Linked DNA regions of Homo sapiens: region 2 is linked to region 1. A link means that fine-mapping ties the variant in region 1 to the expression of a gene that starts in the linked region. Tissue or cell type: testis. Region 1 holds a variant in brackets; the other region holds the start of a gene. All regions are shown on one strand. Distances are from middle to middle.

Region 1 (7,970 bases):
TCCATGCCTGGCTGGTACCATTAGTGTTACGGCATTTAATCACTGCATCAAGCAACCCACGGTAAGTGGTGTCTCATTTAACAGATGGGGAAACTGGGCCTCAGAGCAATGTCCCTCAGGGTCAATTGCCCAAGGTCAGTAAGTGGTCTTAGGACCGGTCTTGGCTGTGATCCTAAACCCCTGCAACCCCACACTGCCTCCAGGGGGGGAGTGCTGATGGAGCCAATTCCTTTTTCTTTGGTGAATCAGCCAAGCTACCTGCGCTGCAGACACACAAAATGACACAACTGGAAGGTAGTCCACTTTACCCACGGAAGGCATTTTAAGGATATACAGTCAAAAAGGATTGTAAAAATTCAATGGCCTCATGAGCACTTGGTTCAGAGTTTATTCACTGACGAAAGTTTTTCTTTTTCCTTTATATCAGAGAATACTTAAAATGACAAAACCATTCACTCGCAAGTTCTCAGAGCTCATCAAAACACAAACATTAAAAAAATGTTGGCTGGGTGCAGTCGCTCACACCTGTAATCCCAGCATTTGGGAGGCTGGGGGGGGGCGGGGGCAGACCACCTGAGGTCAGGAGTTCAAGACCAGCATGGCCAACCTAGTGAAACCCCAAATCTACTAAAAATATAAAAGTCAGCTGGGCGTGGTGGTATGTCCCTGTAATATCAGCTACTCAGGAGGCTGAGGGAGGAGAATTGCTTGAACCGGAAGTTGCAGTGAGCCAAGATCGCACCATTGCACTCCAGCCTGGGTGACAAGAGCAAAACTCCGTCTCAAAAAAAAAAAAAAAAAAAGTTATATGGCATGGCCTCCACTGGGACCAGGCTGTGCTAAGAGTTGCTACATCATCACTAGCAACTTCTTTTTTCTTTTTTCTTTTTTTTTTTTGAGTTTTGCTCTTGTTACCCAGGCTGGAATGCAATGGCGCCATCTTGGCTCACCGCAACCTCTGCCTCCCAGGTTCAAGAGATTCTCCTGCCTCAGTCTCCCAAGTAGCTGGGATTACAGGCATGTGCCACCACACCCAGCTAATTTCATATTTTTAGTAGAGACGGGGTTTCTCCATGTTGGTCAGGCTGGTCTTGAACTCCTGACCTTAGGTGATCTGCCCACTTCGGCCTCTCAAAGTGCTGGGATTACAGGCGTGAGCCACTGCACCTGGCTAATTTTGTATTTTTAGTAGAGACGGGGTTTCTCCATGTTGGTCAGACTGGTCTCAAACTCCTGACCTCAGGGGATCTGCCCGCTTTGGCCTCCCAAAGTGCTGGGATTACAGGCGTGAGCCACGGCACCTGGCTTCTAGCAACTTATTTACCTGATAACACGAAAACTTCAATTTAGATTTTTCTTTTTCCTATTTATCTGTCACCCAGGCTGGAGTGCAGTGGCACAATCATGGCTTATTGCAGCCTGTCTACCTCCCAGGTCCAAACAATCCTCCTACCTCAGCTTCCCAAGTAGGTGGGACCACGGGCATGTGCCACCACACCAAAGTTTTTTGTTTTTGTTTTTTGTAGAGATGGGGTCTCCCTATGTTGCCCAGGCTGGTCTCAAACTCCTGGACTCAAAATATCCTCCTGCCTCGGCCTCCCAAAGTGCTGGGATTACAGGCGTGAGCCATGGCACCTGACTTCTTTCTTATTTTTAAAGATTGCTTGTACTTGCCAAGAGATCCTGAGAGTCTATTCTTAAGTATATCAGTCGGGTAAAGCAGTGGCAGCTAAACACAGTTCTTACGCTTGTAAAAAGTTACACTAAAAATTATAAAGACGTGGCCAGGCGCAGTAGCTCACGCATGTAATCCCAGCACTTTGGGAGGCCAAGGCGGGTGGATCACCTGAGGTTGGGAGTTTGAGACCAACCTGACCAACATGGAGAAACCCCGTCTCTACTAAAAATACAAAATTATCCAGGTGTGGTGGTGCACACCTGTAATCCCAGCTACTCGAGAGGCTGAGGCAGGAGAATCACTTGAAGCCAGGAGGCAGAGGTTGCGGTGAGCCGAGATCACACCATTGCACTCTAGCCTGGGCAACAAGAGCAAAACTCTGTCTCAAAACAAAACAAAACAAAATATATATATATACACATATTATATATATGTATATACATATGTATATATGTGTATATATGTATATACGTATATATGTGTGTGTGTGTGTGTGTATATATATATATATATATATATATATATATATATATATATATATATATATGACCTCACAAATAACCCTTCCTTAGGCATTTAAAACACTATATGGTATTTACTTTTGTAGCACAGAAGGAAGAAGGGAGCCTGGCCATTCCTTCTGCTCTGGGTCATGGCTGAAGGTCTTCCTGAGGATACCTAACCATGGTTGAATGTGGTCTGCCAAAACATCATGCTTTAAGCCAAGCATATGAGACCACAGGTAAATCAGACCTAATAGAAAAATTCTAATAACTTTATTTTCAGGTATTGTCTCTTAAGGTTGATCACATGAAACGGGCAGAATCAGGTTTAAAAGTAGGCTGCATTATAATGGAAATAGAACTATTCAAAGTTGGGGTTATGACAGAGTAAAACTTTTTTTATGATGCTTCTTTTTTCTTTTGTAGAACCATGCTTAGATGAACTAACAGTGGCCCTGCCCTATACTTTTTTTTTTTTTTTTTTGGTACAATTTTATTTGGACGTTACTTTAAACTTCCAAAAAGTTGCAATAGTAAAAGAACTCTGATGCATCCCTTACCCAGACTCATCAATGGTTTACATTTTGCTCCATTTGCTTTTGCATCATCATCCTCCCTCCCTCTCCCTCTTTCTCTCTCATATGTATACACACTTCTGTGGGATCCATTTGAGAGTGTATTTTTTTACATTCTTTTACCTAACCACAGCTCAAAACATCAGTATTCTTGACTATTCTAAGGCAGATTTATTGTCTTGGTCTTAAAATGCTGTAGCAAACTTAATCATAAATGAATGTCAACTATGCATTAACCAATCCTGTGCTAAGTTTGGAAATAAATCAATAGGCATCCTATTTCTCCAGTGTCTCTCTATAATTTTGAATGTAAATAAACCTCATAATGAAGGAGAAAGAAAAGCAAAACAGTTTTCAGAGATGGGTTTGTTCAGGTTCCAAATAGTCTGACCATTAAGGAGGTGTGTGGAGGGCACAAAACCTTTTAACAGCTACCACCACCATCAAAGATGGCATTGGGAGGGGGTGGTCAAGCACAAGGAACTGCTGTTAGAACTTAATTCTCTAGCAGGTTCATGAGTTCTTTGCAGACACTATTTTGAAAACTAAAAGCCTACTATCAGAGTCAAGTAGAGAAATAAATGTCAAACAGAAAAGAAGGGTATGGTCACAAGGGAGGTGAGAAAGAAGCCCAAGGTCATGTAGAGAGAGCTGGGATACTCTTTTTTTTTTTTTTTAGAAAGGCAAGGAATATCATGGGGCTATTCCATGCAATAGAAAATGGAACAGTTCCATTTCCCTCCTTTGTCCTTTCTCTCGCCTCTTCCTTCAAAATAGTTAAATAGCTATTTCTCATCATTAAAAACAAAGACAAGCAGCTAACAGATGTAAGACTTCTCAATCATCATTGTCAAGAGAACATCTGACCCAAAGGATAAGGGCTATACTTAGGGAATGGAATCTGATGCTCTCAGCATTCAGTAAACTTGGTCCTGATGTCTTCAAAGCTTTGACAAGTCAACAAACATCTTGAGACCTGATTTTAAAAAATAGCCACTATTTGCCTTCCAAAGATGGTCTAAGGATGTTTTAAAACAGAAAAGAATTTCACGACCATAAAGAATTAAAGCTCCTATTGCAACGTACCAATTGGCATTGCTGCTTCCACTGGGACTAAACAGACTTTCTTGAAGCTAACCAGTGACAAATGGAATTGAAACAATATGTTAATAACAAAACCTGAGTTTCATCTTCTTTTTGAGCTTGCGAGAGCTCTAGCCTTCTGAACGGCAGACAATTTTGCCAAGTTATTGACCAACGTTTCCAGCTGCTT[C/T]GGTAGCAGCTTCTAACCAGTCCCCACATAAAGCCTCCAATACCATACACATAGCGTGTGTGCGTGCACACATTCGCACACAGCATGTGTAGTGGTCTATGGAGCATGACAGTTTTTCTAGGTAAAGCTTGTTCCCCAAATTCAAGTATGGCCTTATTCATATAACACAGTGATATAATGAGGGGTTCCTTTGTGAAATTTACTTTCTAGGTTCATTCACTGCATTCATTCATTCATCCTTATATTTAAAGTTGTTATTGAACGGTTCTGGGGAATGCCAAAAGGAGCCAACTGACATTTATTCCATTAAAAGCCAGAACTTAGAAAGAAATGTAGCCACCGGGTGCAGTGGCTCATGCCTGTAATCCCAGCACTATAGAGGCTAAGGTGGGTGGATTACTTGAGGTCAGGAGTTCGAGACCAGCCTGATCAACATGGTGAAACCCCATCTCTACTAAAAATACAAAATTAGCCGGGCATGGTGGCGCATGTCTGTAATCCCAGTACTTGGGAGGCTGAGGCAGGAGAATTGCTTGAACCTGGGAGGCAGAGGCTGCAGTGAACCAAGATCATGCCATTGCACTCCAGCCTGGGCAACAAGAGCGAAACTCCATCTTAAAAAAAAAAAAAATTCCATTATTCATCTCCTTGCTTTCTTTCGTGGTGGCACGTGTAAAAATTATATGTGATTTAGCCTTCGGCTGATCATTTGTTTTCATTTTGAGCACAGTAGAAAACACTGGCTTCGGGATTCAAGAAACAGAATGGCCCCTGACCCATACATTTATGATAACTAGCAAACTTTTTGTAGGTTTTTTTCTCCCTGCTCTCATAATGTTTTGATCCCTGCTACCTGTCTCTTATTAAGGTGCCTTTCTCTTTTGCCCACAGCCAACAACCTCCAAACCTTTCAAAATTTGTTGCTTCCGGTATTAGGCAACCATTCTTTGAAAAAGTTTGTCTAAAAGTACACAGAAGCTGGGCATATGCCTATACTCTCAGCTACCTGGTGGCTGAAGTGGGAGGATTGCTTGAGCCCAGGAGTTTGAGACCAGCCTGGGCAATACAGCAAGACCCTGTCCCAAAAAAAAATCTATGTAGTAATTATGGCATGGACAAGGGCTTAAGGACTTCTCCTATAAGCACAGTAACCACTGGTGAAATAAGATAGCATACAGTGTGAGAAGGTGTTATTCAAACTAAAGAGAAGGTTTATTATTTCGTTATGCTATTTTGGCCACTTGGGGATCATTTCATTTTCTACTGGTCTGTATGCTGCTTCCAGGATAGCTAAGGATTATTATCTTGATTGACCTTGACATATACATAAATGAGCCATAACTATGTTTCTGTAAAGAGCTTAATAAGTCAGCACAGTATATGAAGGTCCAGAGGCAGTGAAGAGTGGACGGTTTTGCTAGAAGACAGATTCTTCCAAAGAAGCAACAACAGATGGCAATGGTGTCTGAATCCTATTTTCAAGAATTACACATTTCAGGCAGAAAACTGTGGGCTTATCACTACAGGCAATGGGAAGCTGCAAAAGACATGAATGGAGACTGCCACAAGATACTTCTGGGTCTTAAAGAAGATTAATATGGTAGTGATGGTCAGGAAAAAGATAAAGAACCTGAGAGGGGCCAATTAGTACACTGTCCCTAAGAAAGCTTACACATAGTGACTTGGGGAGGGAAAGTAAAAGGAACTAATAGGAAAGGAAGAAATTGGGCCAAAGACAGTTTTGAGTATTAGGTGATTGACATACCAATACATAAGTACCTTAGGGCAACTCAGAAGGGGAGTGAGGATTTGAGGGATTTCAGGAGAATGAGTTTAATCAGATACATATTGAGGTTGTAACTGTATATCAGGTCTGGTATGATTCCTATTATTCATAATTTTCTTGAACCAAGTCACCAAATCAAAATCATGCAAATAGAAAACAGTAATTGTCAGGGCCTGCCATTGAAAATGAAGTATAAGGTCATATCCCTAATTACATTTTTTTCTCCAATGCAATCCCACTCTAGTTCCTATATGAAGACTACCATGGCATTGTAAGATCCCTATGAAAAAGTATTTCTTGTGTGAACATGCCCAGGGAAGTTAGAAATCCTCTGATCACCAAAAGCCAGAACAGATACTGATTTGTGAAGTCAGTTAGGCCAACATTCCCTAGGTGTCCCCTGCTGCTAAGTGCCATCCGTGGGCTACAAACTGCTTAACAGCTTCTTTGTTAAACTGCTTGTTAACAAGGCCTTAGTGCATGGAAGATGCAGATCACAGGTTCTCCATTCAAAAGCTACTCCAATTCTCCCAGACTACATATGCAGGTGAATTAAATTTAACTACAGACTAATTTAGCAGTACAGAAACATGTCACACATCCATTCTTTTCACAATACAAAATATACCACCCTTATGGATATACACATTTCCTTGTTTAGGATGTCCTTAACTTCAATCGAGATGTGAATTTTCCAGTAAAAGAGACACTAAACTGTCATTTCTTTAAAGGTTTCACACACTCAAGGGGCATTCAGTGCTTACTGTCTACTAAAGACAAAGTCACTGCCAACAAAGCCCAATTCAATTTCACTTATTTGAAAAATAAAAACATAATGAAGTTATCAGGAGATATTGTTTATGAAACATTCCTTTACTAAGTTTTCCATACGAGCAATTAGTGGCATTAGGCCATATGCCCTTTAGTATTTTCTGTATTTTCCAGGTAAACCTCCGTCCAGCATTTTCGAGGTAAACCTCCATCCAGCTTGTACATTTCCCAACAGCTGAGTGGGCTATCACACATCACCCAATGGTCAAGAAACTATCCATTTTTCCAAGAGGAAATGTGGAACTCTTTCAAAGCATTCTAATTTCATGCACAAGTACATTCCATGACAGTAAGAAACAAAAGGAGGAAACATGACGACAAAGCCTGGTCCTCCGCCAGCGCGGCGCTTCTAGGGTCAGATTATCCGCACACGAGTATGTAAAGACAAAATCCAAAATGCATGCCATGGAATGAGGGGCACCACACAAGGCGGTGCTCTAATGAGCCCATTATTTTCCATAATGGGGGATGCAGATATTTTCTCAAAATCGTGTTCTCCTCAGTCTTCTATTGATTTTTTGGATTTCTATTTTCAACAGTGGCCCGAGGAAACGGCAGCCAGACTTGACTCCAATGTACACACAGACTCAGGTTTCGCCCCGTCACCTGTTGGCTCCTGAACAACACTCCTCTTTGTGAAACTTACAGCACCCATTTGAAACAAGTTTCCAGAGAAAACACTTCAAGAAAGTGTTTGAGAAGTCACAAGACTCGAGTTGTAAAAACAAATTCCACACATAGCCTGGCTTATAAGGACACAGACTAACGGGAAAGGCCGAGCTTTTAAAAATGGGGCTGGAGGAAGCGAGAAGGAAAGGATGTCACCGTACTTTGGGAAAACTCAGCCGGCCAATTCTTGATGGGGCTGCCAGTGATGGCTGCAGGGGGTCCCCTGGGTCGTCCCCATCCCCGCCGCCGCAGCAGCAGAGACGCCTCAGAGCGGGCGTCGGCGCCCCCTGGGCCCCGCAAACTCTGCGCTCCAGGCGGCGGCCGCTGCTTAGGCCGCGAGGGGGCGCCCTGGGCCGTGGGTCGACCGGCTCCAGCCCCTCTCTGCGTCCCCGGCCCCAGGAGCCAGAGGCCGAGCTCAGGACGCAGAGGCAGCGAGCGAACCCCTCCTCGGCGCCGACGCGAAGCCCCGAGAGAACAGTGCCCCTTGTCCTCCAGCATAGAACAGTCGCCTTCGAATTCCCCGTTACCCTCCTCCAGCAGAAAGCCTCGCGCCGCTCTTGGCGCCGTGTCACCTCCACGGAGCAGCACTCGCCCTGCGGCTGGACGGTGGGGCCGAGCAGCCACGGGTCCCCACGTCTGTCCCTCAGCTTCCAAC
Region 2 (7,970 bases), 110 kb after region 1:
GGAAGAGTCTATCCTAGTCAAATGATACTTTTAACATTTCTATTCACAGATGAGAATCACTTTGATTTTTTAAAATTACCTTTTTTTTTTTTTTTCCCCAGAGATGGGGTCTAACAATGTTGGCTGGGCTGAACTTGAACTCCTGGGCTCAAGCGATCCTCCCCAGTAGCTGGGGCTATAGAGCCAAGCACCACTACATGTAGCTTTCCTGTCTTTCTTTAAAAGGAAAAATTTGCTCTTTATAAACTATTTTAACCAGGAAATTAACTGCAGTAAGTAGAATATAAGTAATGATAATCTTTACTGAAAATTGTTTCCCATGATATTAGAGAGCCCAAAATATAGGTATAGGCCATTAAGAGAGTTACTTAATTACTGGAAAATACTTTGTAAAGATTCTTGTTCCATTTCATGAGTATTATAGACAATCACTCATAATACTTAATTCTTTGTATTTTGCTTTCAAGTAATTATAAGAGATTTTAGAGAAATTATGATGCAACTTTTAAAACTTATAATTCAGCTTACTTTTTAAAAGCCTTAATCAAAGAAACTGCAAAATTTAACTTTTTTGGTCTTTTCAGAATTATCAAAAGAGAGAATATTAGGAACAACTAGACTTACCTACATCTGACTCTAAAGTTAAGAGTTCAGCTATTAACCCTATAGGAGATCTTTATTTCTCCCTAGCTAATATTAGATTTTATCTGGGGGACTCAAGCTGACTTATTACACCACCACACACCATGGACAAATAGTGCTTCCATGGACCTTGATTATAAAAACATAATAAGCTTTTTAAGCTTCACTGGTGTTACTGGCAGAACTGATTGAATCTGTCACTTTAGTAAAATATATCATTTTTCTTTTTAAAACCTATGAACCAACAGGCTCACTCGGTGATAACTCGCCAATTAGTACCAAATTAAAGATGGAAAAATTAATTTACTAAGCCCATTCAGTTGCATCAATATGTCTATCTCTATAAACTATCCAGTTTTTCCTTCCTTTTTCCCTCCCTCTCTCCATCCCTCCCTCTTTTCCTTCCTTCCTTCCTTTTGAGGCTTATTTATAAGAATGAATCATACTACATTAGCCATGACTTATTAAACTTGGAGATTTTCAAGTTCATCAGCAAGTGTGCAAACCCTTAACTGTGGGTAACATCCATTTATTTGTAGCACCTTTCGGTTTTAATATGTAGAGCACATGCATTGTTAACCTCTAAATCCTTTGTATAAACATTTCTGGAAGAGCTGGTAAAATATCTCCTTCTGTGTTTCCTGACTCGCCAGTTGATGGCATTTAGAAACCCTCTGGTACCAGCAGGTGCTGTATTTTGCTTTCTTCAGGCTCCAGCTGGGCTACAATGACAGATTCCTGTCCCAGGCCAAGCCTAGCCACCAAGGCTAGGACCACATTGGAGGCAAACTGAACCAGGCTCCACCAGACAGCAAGATGAATGGCTGCTGTTTAAGTTTAAAATCCCCTGGTGGGAGTAAATATTGTTCCAGAGAAAAGCCTTGACAAATACTGCGTCATCCTTACAGAACTGTCTTGATTAAAGCAGAATCTTTGGATTAAGTTGATGCTCAATTCAAAATGTATCTATCTTGCTGTCATGGGATTTTTTTTTGTTTTTTTTTTCCTTTCTAGAGTCTGAAAACAGACATAATGTTGGGGACGGTCAAACAAGGCTGCCGGCTCCCAAGGGGCTAGAGTCCACTCCTGATAATAGAAGGCGGCTGAACACTGACACTTCACTGAGGATAATGGAGACAGCAAAGGCTTAGTGGGAAAGGGCCAGTTGTCACCTAAGTGACAGGCAACAGCTGAGCTCACACATCTGGAGCCGGACTACGGCAAACATTAGCAACCCTCACCAGTCTACACCTTGGGCCTGTCTGAAAAGACAGATGGAAGTTCCCTCTACTCCTAAAGTACATTAAAAAATGTCTGATGGTGAACCACATCAATTATATAACATCAACTGCAGGCACAGCCTTCCAAAGTACTGATTAAGACGAGGCAGTAGACAACACTGTATGCATGAACAGATACAAGATACCATTTCAGTGATTTGTCATTCATAAAACTTATCCTAAAAGACACATATACATGCATCCATTTGATAGCACAAATGCATGTTAACTCTGCAGGAGAGGCAGATTTTTACATGTTTTTTTGGTTGTAGTTGTTGGTGCTTTTTTTTTTTCCTTTAGGCTGGTTCCCGTGGTGTGTTTGCCTTGTTCATGGTCTCAGTTCTGCCGCTGATACCCTTTTAAAAATCAGCAACCAAACGCGTTCGGCTTGTGATCCTGAACCCTCCTTAGGCAAGCTGGAACTAAGCGTGATGCAGCCGTCCTCCCTCTCTCCCAACCCCCAACCTCGTTCTTCAGCCTCCTGAAGACAATCTGTGAACAATTTTCCCAAAGTCCCAAGAATAACACAGCACTGCCAATAGTCACTGGCGATGCCGTTTGTTTTTCTTAGAGGGTAATGAAAATTTAACAGCTTTCTGCTGCATCCTGAGTCCCGCTCCTAATAACTATTAACATGCCTAGTTTCTTCAACTTTTTCTACCTCAAGAGAGGAAGACGCTCCCATTTTTTCCCTATATCTGTGCTACATTCAGCAAACACCATCGCGGGGCAGGGGGTTGGGGAGAGTGGTGGGAGTTGATTCGCCTCTGCCAAAAAGCCACCAGCCCCTTTCCCCAGCGCTAGAGGAGAGAATCGGTACCCTCCCTCCGGACGCCAGTAGGTGACAGGCGATCCTAAGCGGCGGGAACACGCCAACGCACCCTCGCCTCCCGGCGCCCCGCATCGCCTCGACCCTCGGGCTACAGAACCTGTTTCCACGCCGGAGAAAACCAAGGGAAGAGTTGGTTGTGATGCAGCAAACAGGAGCCATGCGGAGAGCCTCTGCGGAGCCCTGGCGATGCTGCAGCCAATATCTGCTTTCCCTGTCTACACAGCCCAACAAACCGATTATGACCTTCTCCCTGATCTTCTGCGACACCGACCCAGTCTGGGTGTCACAGACTCCGGCGGTGCCAGCGAAGGTGCCCGGCCCTACCCCTGCGGCGCTCGCCCCCCACCACCGCGCCGCAGCCCCCTCTGCGGAATCCGCCGGGATCCAGGCTGCCACTCACCTCGCGCGAGGGAGACGCAACTCGGCTGCACTGTCCTCGGCGCCGCTGCGGGGCTGCTGGGCTGCGGGGCTGCGGGGCTGAGGAGCTGCGGTCCGCGGCGTCAGGGGTGGGCGAGGGTGAGCAGCGCACGAACCATCCAGAGCCCAGAAAGTCTCCGTGCCGACCGCGGCGCGTCTCGGGGAAGTCAGCGCAGGCTGCGCGAGGCTGGCATGTTCCGGGCGCGCTGTCGGGCGGCGGCGGCCGCGGGAGACGGCGCTGGCAGCTGGGCTGCAGGCGGAGTGCGCTCGGGCTCCGGAGCCGCGCGCTGCGGCGCCGCCGCGCACCCCGCCCTCGGCCGCGGGGCCCGGCGCGAGCGAAAACGCGGAGCGCGGACGCCGCCGCGGGATCGAGGCCGCTGGGCGCGCGCCCACGCGTACCCCGGCTCGGCCCTGAAAGCGAGGTCGGGCCCGGCTCGGGCCGCGCCCGGGGGCAGGGCTGCGAGCAGGCCTGGGACCGGCTCCACGCGCAGCCAGTGGGGCAGAGCAGCAGGCGGATTATGCGCAGGGAGAAAAAAGTTCACCAACCGCGGTCCAGAGTCGCAAGTGCGGCTCGCTCGGAGCCTCTGCCCCGCCCCCGATTATAAGCCTTTTTTTTTTTTTTTTTTTAACCAACAATCCCGATGGACTGAAACACAGGAAGAGTGAAGGGACGGGGTGGGGGGTGGGGGAGAGACAAACCCAATTTCCTCTGATCAAACGATTTGGGTAGGGGTGCCTATTTGAGTTCCTTCTCCTTCGGGGGGTGTGTGAAGGGGGCAGTTAATTAAACACTTAGATTCCTTCCGGCGCGCCTTGCCGAGCTGGGGACCCGTTTGGACTCGATCCTGTCTCGTGTAATCCCACAGGCTGGTCTGAGTCTCTGCCCCGGAACCGGAGGAGTGATCTTTCAGAGCAAGAAGCCAAAGTTCAGCCTCTAGTCCGTTCCCTTCCCCGCCTCGACGGCCCTGGTCGTCTCCATGAAAACTCAGTGTGGGGGATCGTGCCCGCGAAAACCTCAGCCCACCGCAATGTCCAGAGCCTGACCCAAGTGAACGTGGCGCACTTAAAAGCGGGTTCAAAGCATTGATCCGAACACGGTGACAATTTTTCACTGGCCAAACTACTCTCCACATTTTCAGTCTGCTCAATTCCCAGAGCTGGGCTCTCAGGCGCACTCACCCACGTTGAACTGGGGCTCAGCCTGTTTGAAAGTTCTGCCCTGACATTTGTGTCACACTAAACCTTAGAACCCCCCACCCTCTCCAGTTCCGGATCGGTGGAGTCTCACCGTGTGGGTACTATTTCCCTGGACTGCAGAGGGCAGACACAGGCGGCAGCTGTTAACCCGAACTTGACAGGTGCCTCTGCAAAGCCAGGGCTTCCTTGACCTCTCCATCCTCTCCACAACGCTCTAGGATACTGTATCATCTTCCAGGAAGATGAGGATGTGTGTGGGGGGAGTGTGGAGGGAGGTGTTGACTGATGCAATTTTTATCCTTTTAAGAAAAATCAAAACTGCCAGTCTCAGAATTTCTCAGAACATCAAGTCTTTTCGATTTTCGTTGGGAATAAAGCAAAGGAATACTCAGCAAAAATGGAGCCGATGAAAAGAGAATGCAAGGAAATAAAGGCAAATGGAGGAGGAAACTGTCTAAATCCAGGAAAATGTATGGCTTCAGCACTGTGCTCTATAATTCTGACTCAGATCTCCCCACGCTGTAGATACTTTCTCCTGTCTAGATGCCCAGGCAGAGTTCCTGAGCTCAGATCACTCAGGAAACAAGGCTGTTGCTTTTGAAATAATTCCACTTGCTAGCGTTGTTTTTTTTTTTTTTTTTTTTTTTTTTTTTTTTTGAGACGGAGTTTCGCTCTTGTCACACAGGCTGGAGTGCAGTGGCGCGATCTCCGCTCACTGCAACCTCCGCCCCGCCCCCGTGTTGAAGCGATTCTCCTTCCTCAACCTCCCGAGTAGCTGGGATTACAGGCACCTGCCACCGCGCCCAGGTAATTTTTGTATTTTTAGTAGAGACAGTTTCCCCATGTTGGCCAGGCTGGTCTCGAACTCCTGACCTCAGGTGACGAGAATCTGGGAAAGAACAAACCAGGTTTTCTTGCCCCTCAGCATTTTATTGGAATTGGCCTTTGAAGTTGTGTCTGTTTATCTTGCTGGGGTTACAAATGCTTCTATTAAGCTATCAACTTTTAGGTTCTATCTAACCTCCAGAACTGCCAAAGAAAATTTCACTACCTCCATAGGTGAAATAAATCTTATTGCTGTACAGTGACTTCACAAAGGTTTTGTTTGTTGAGCATCTATTATGTGGAGCAGACACCCTGAGCACTGTGGATGATACATGGTCATTCCCTCTGGAGGATTACTGCCTCTTTGGACTGTGTGCTGGGCAGCATCTTTTGGATCCATTGCAAAGGTGAATACTTGGCCTTCAACCAGGACTCATAAAATTACTCCGGCCAGTGCATGTGATGGTCTGAGGTCACAACAGTCTGATTTCAAATTTCAGCCCCACCGCTTACCAAATGTAGCCTGGGGTAATGTAGTTAACCTCTCTCAGGCTTAGTTTCTCATTGGTAAGTGAGGGTAATAATATTCAGCTCAGGGAACTGTTGGGAAGATTGAATGCTGCAGAAATCACTGGAACGTTTGTATTTCATTTTATAAGGCATCTTCTCACAAGCACCCTTCTCTATAGCAGCCTCCATGCAAAATCCCACAAGTAGAAAAGAACTGTTTTTTATTTAATCTGAAAAAGCATTCTTCATTGTGAACTCTTGAATTGCTCCTGGGTCTCTTTTTCTTTTTTCTGAGTCTGTTTTATTAATGGTGTTATTTTCTTTGTCTTTACAAAGCAACATGATGTCATACCTTTTGTAAGAAATCAATTCACTTAGAGAATGTCTACTTTTCTTTTTTGAGACACCCTTGATCTGTCACCCAGTCTGGAGTGCAGTGGTGATCACAGCTCACTTCAGCCTCAAACTCCTGGGCTCAAGTGATCCTCCCGCCACAGCCTCCCGAGTAGCTGAGACTACAGGCATGCACTACCGTACGTGGCTAAGTAACTTCTTTTTATTTTATTTATTTATTTGAGATGGAGTCTTGCTCTTCGCCCAGGCTGGCGTGAAATGGCACGATCTTGGCTCACTGCAAACTCTGACCCCAGGGTTCATGCAATTCTCCTGCCTCAGCTGCCCGAGTAGCTGGGACTACAGGTGCATGCCATCACACCCAGCTAATTTTTGTATTTTTAGTACAGACGGGGTTTCGCCATGTTGGCCAGGCTGGTCTTGAACTCCTGACCTCAAGTGATCCACCTGCCTTGGCCTCCCAAAGTGCTAGGATTACAGGCATGAGCCACTGAGCCTGGCTGCAACTTCTTTTTAAAAATAACATTTTTGTGTGTTGAATTGTGTCCTCCAAAACTTCATGTTGAAGTCCTTAACTGCAGTACCTCAGAATGCAACCTTATTTGGAGATAAGGTCTTTGCAGAGTTAATCAAGTTAACATGAGGTCACTAAGTTCAGTCCTAATCCAATATGATTTTTATCCTTATAAAAAGGGGAAACTTGGGCAGGCATAGTGACTCATGCCTATACTCCCAGCACTTTGGGAGGCTGAGGTGGGAGAGTCACTTAAGCCCAGGAGTTTGAGATGAGCCTGGGCAACAGGCAACACAGGGAGATCTTGTCTCTCCAAAAAAAAAAAAAAGGAAAAAAAAGAAAGAAATCGCCAGGTGTGGTGGCATGGGCATGCACCTATGTTCCCAGCTACTGGAAGGCTGAGGCAGGACAATCACTTGAGCCCAGGACATCGAGGCTGTGGTGAGCCATTATGGTGTCCCTGCACTCTAGCCTGGGCAATACAGCGAGACCGTGTCTCAAAAAGAGGTGGGGAGCAGAATTTGGAGACAGACATGCACACAGGGAGAATACCACATAGAGGTGAAGGCGGAGATCAGGGTGATGCTTCTGCAAGCCAAGGAACATCATTGATTGCCAGCAAATTACCAGAAGCCAGGAGAGAGGCACGGAACAGATTCTTCCTCACAGCTCTCAGAAGGAACCAACCCTGCCCACACCTTGATCTCAGACTTTCCACCTGCACAACTGTAAGACAATAAATTTCAGTTGTTTCAGCCACCCAGTTTGTGGTACTTTATTATGGTAGCCCCAGCAAACTAGTACAATACCCAACCATGTCATGCTCTGAATGTGTCGTGGCTCACTAAAGAGGATTTTCATATTTAGATGAAGAATTCGTGACAGTGTGGGCCACAAGCTTGAGAATTAAGCAACAATCAGACAGTGTTGGCAGTCTTTGTTTGATTCCCAGGTCTGTTTGATTCCTAGGATTTGCTTGGCGTCTGCTCCCTGTGTCTCTTGTTCATCCACATCTGGGACTCCTTTCTTTGACTTGCAGACCCAGCCCCAACCAGTGTTTGCAGGGTGAATCAGTGTTGACCCTATAATGATCTGCAAGGGCCTGGCTGTCAGGCGTGCTCCCGGGCTGCAAATCCTACTTATGCTCTTCAGGGCTTTCAGGATAGAGTGCACACTCCTTGGATTAGTTCTAAAGGTCTTTTATATTTGCACTATGCCTATCTCTCTGGCTTATTTTTTTTTTACTACTCTCCACCCTTGTTTGCTCTAACCATATTAAGCTATTTACAGTTCTTCAAAAGCATCAGGCTGTTTTATGACTCTGTGCTTTGAAAATACCTAGAATGTTACCCACTGAAAATTGCCCTCTTTATTAGCTAACTCCTGCTTATCCTTTACC

Evidence for each region. PIP is the estimated chance that this variant, and not a neighbour inherited with it, causes the effect.
Region 2: it holds the start of PRICKLE1, and the variant in region 1 is fine-mapped to the expression of PRICKLE1 in testis (GTEx, PIP 0.91).

Annotation. Positions count from the first base shown.
Region 1 is chr12:42,475,309-42,483,278 of GRCh38, forward strand. All of the region lies in intron 1 of PRICKLE1 (prickle planar cell polarity protein 1), which reads right to left. Among named protein-coding and RNA genes, the nearest start is that of PRICKLE1, 110 kb to the right of the region's middle. RefSeq lists enhancers at 33-102, 3,870-3,959, 5,969-6,580, 7,795-7,914 and silencers at 5,455-5,655, 7,605-7,674. The variant C/T (reference allele first, on the strand shown) is at 4,030.
Region 2 is chr12:42,586,311-42,594,280 of GRCh38, forward strand. PRICKLE1 (prickle planar cell polarity protein 1) reads right to left here and starts at 3,436. Exons shown (of 8, transcript NM_153026.3): 1 at 3,155-3,436. RefSeq lists a silencer at 3,440-3,689 and an enhancer at 4,159-4,716.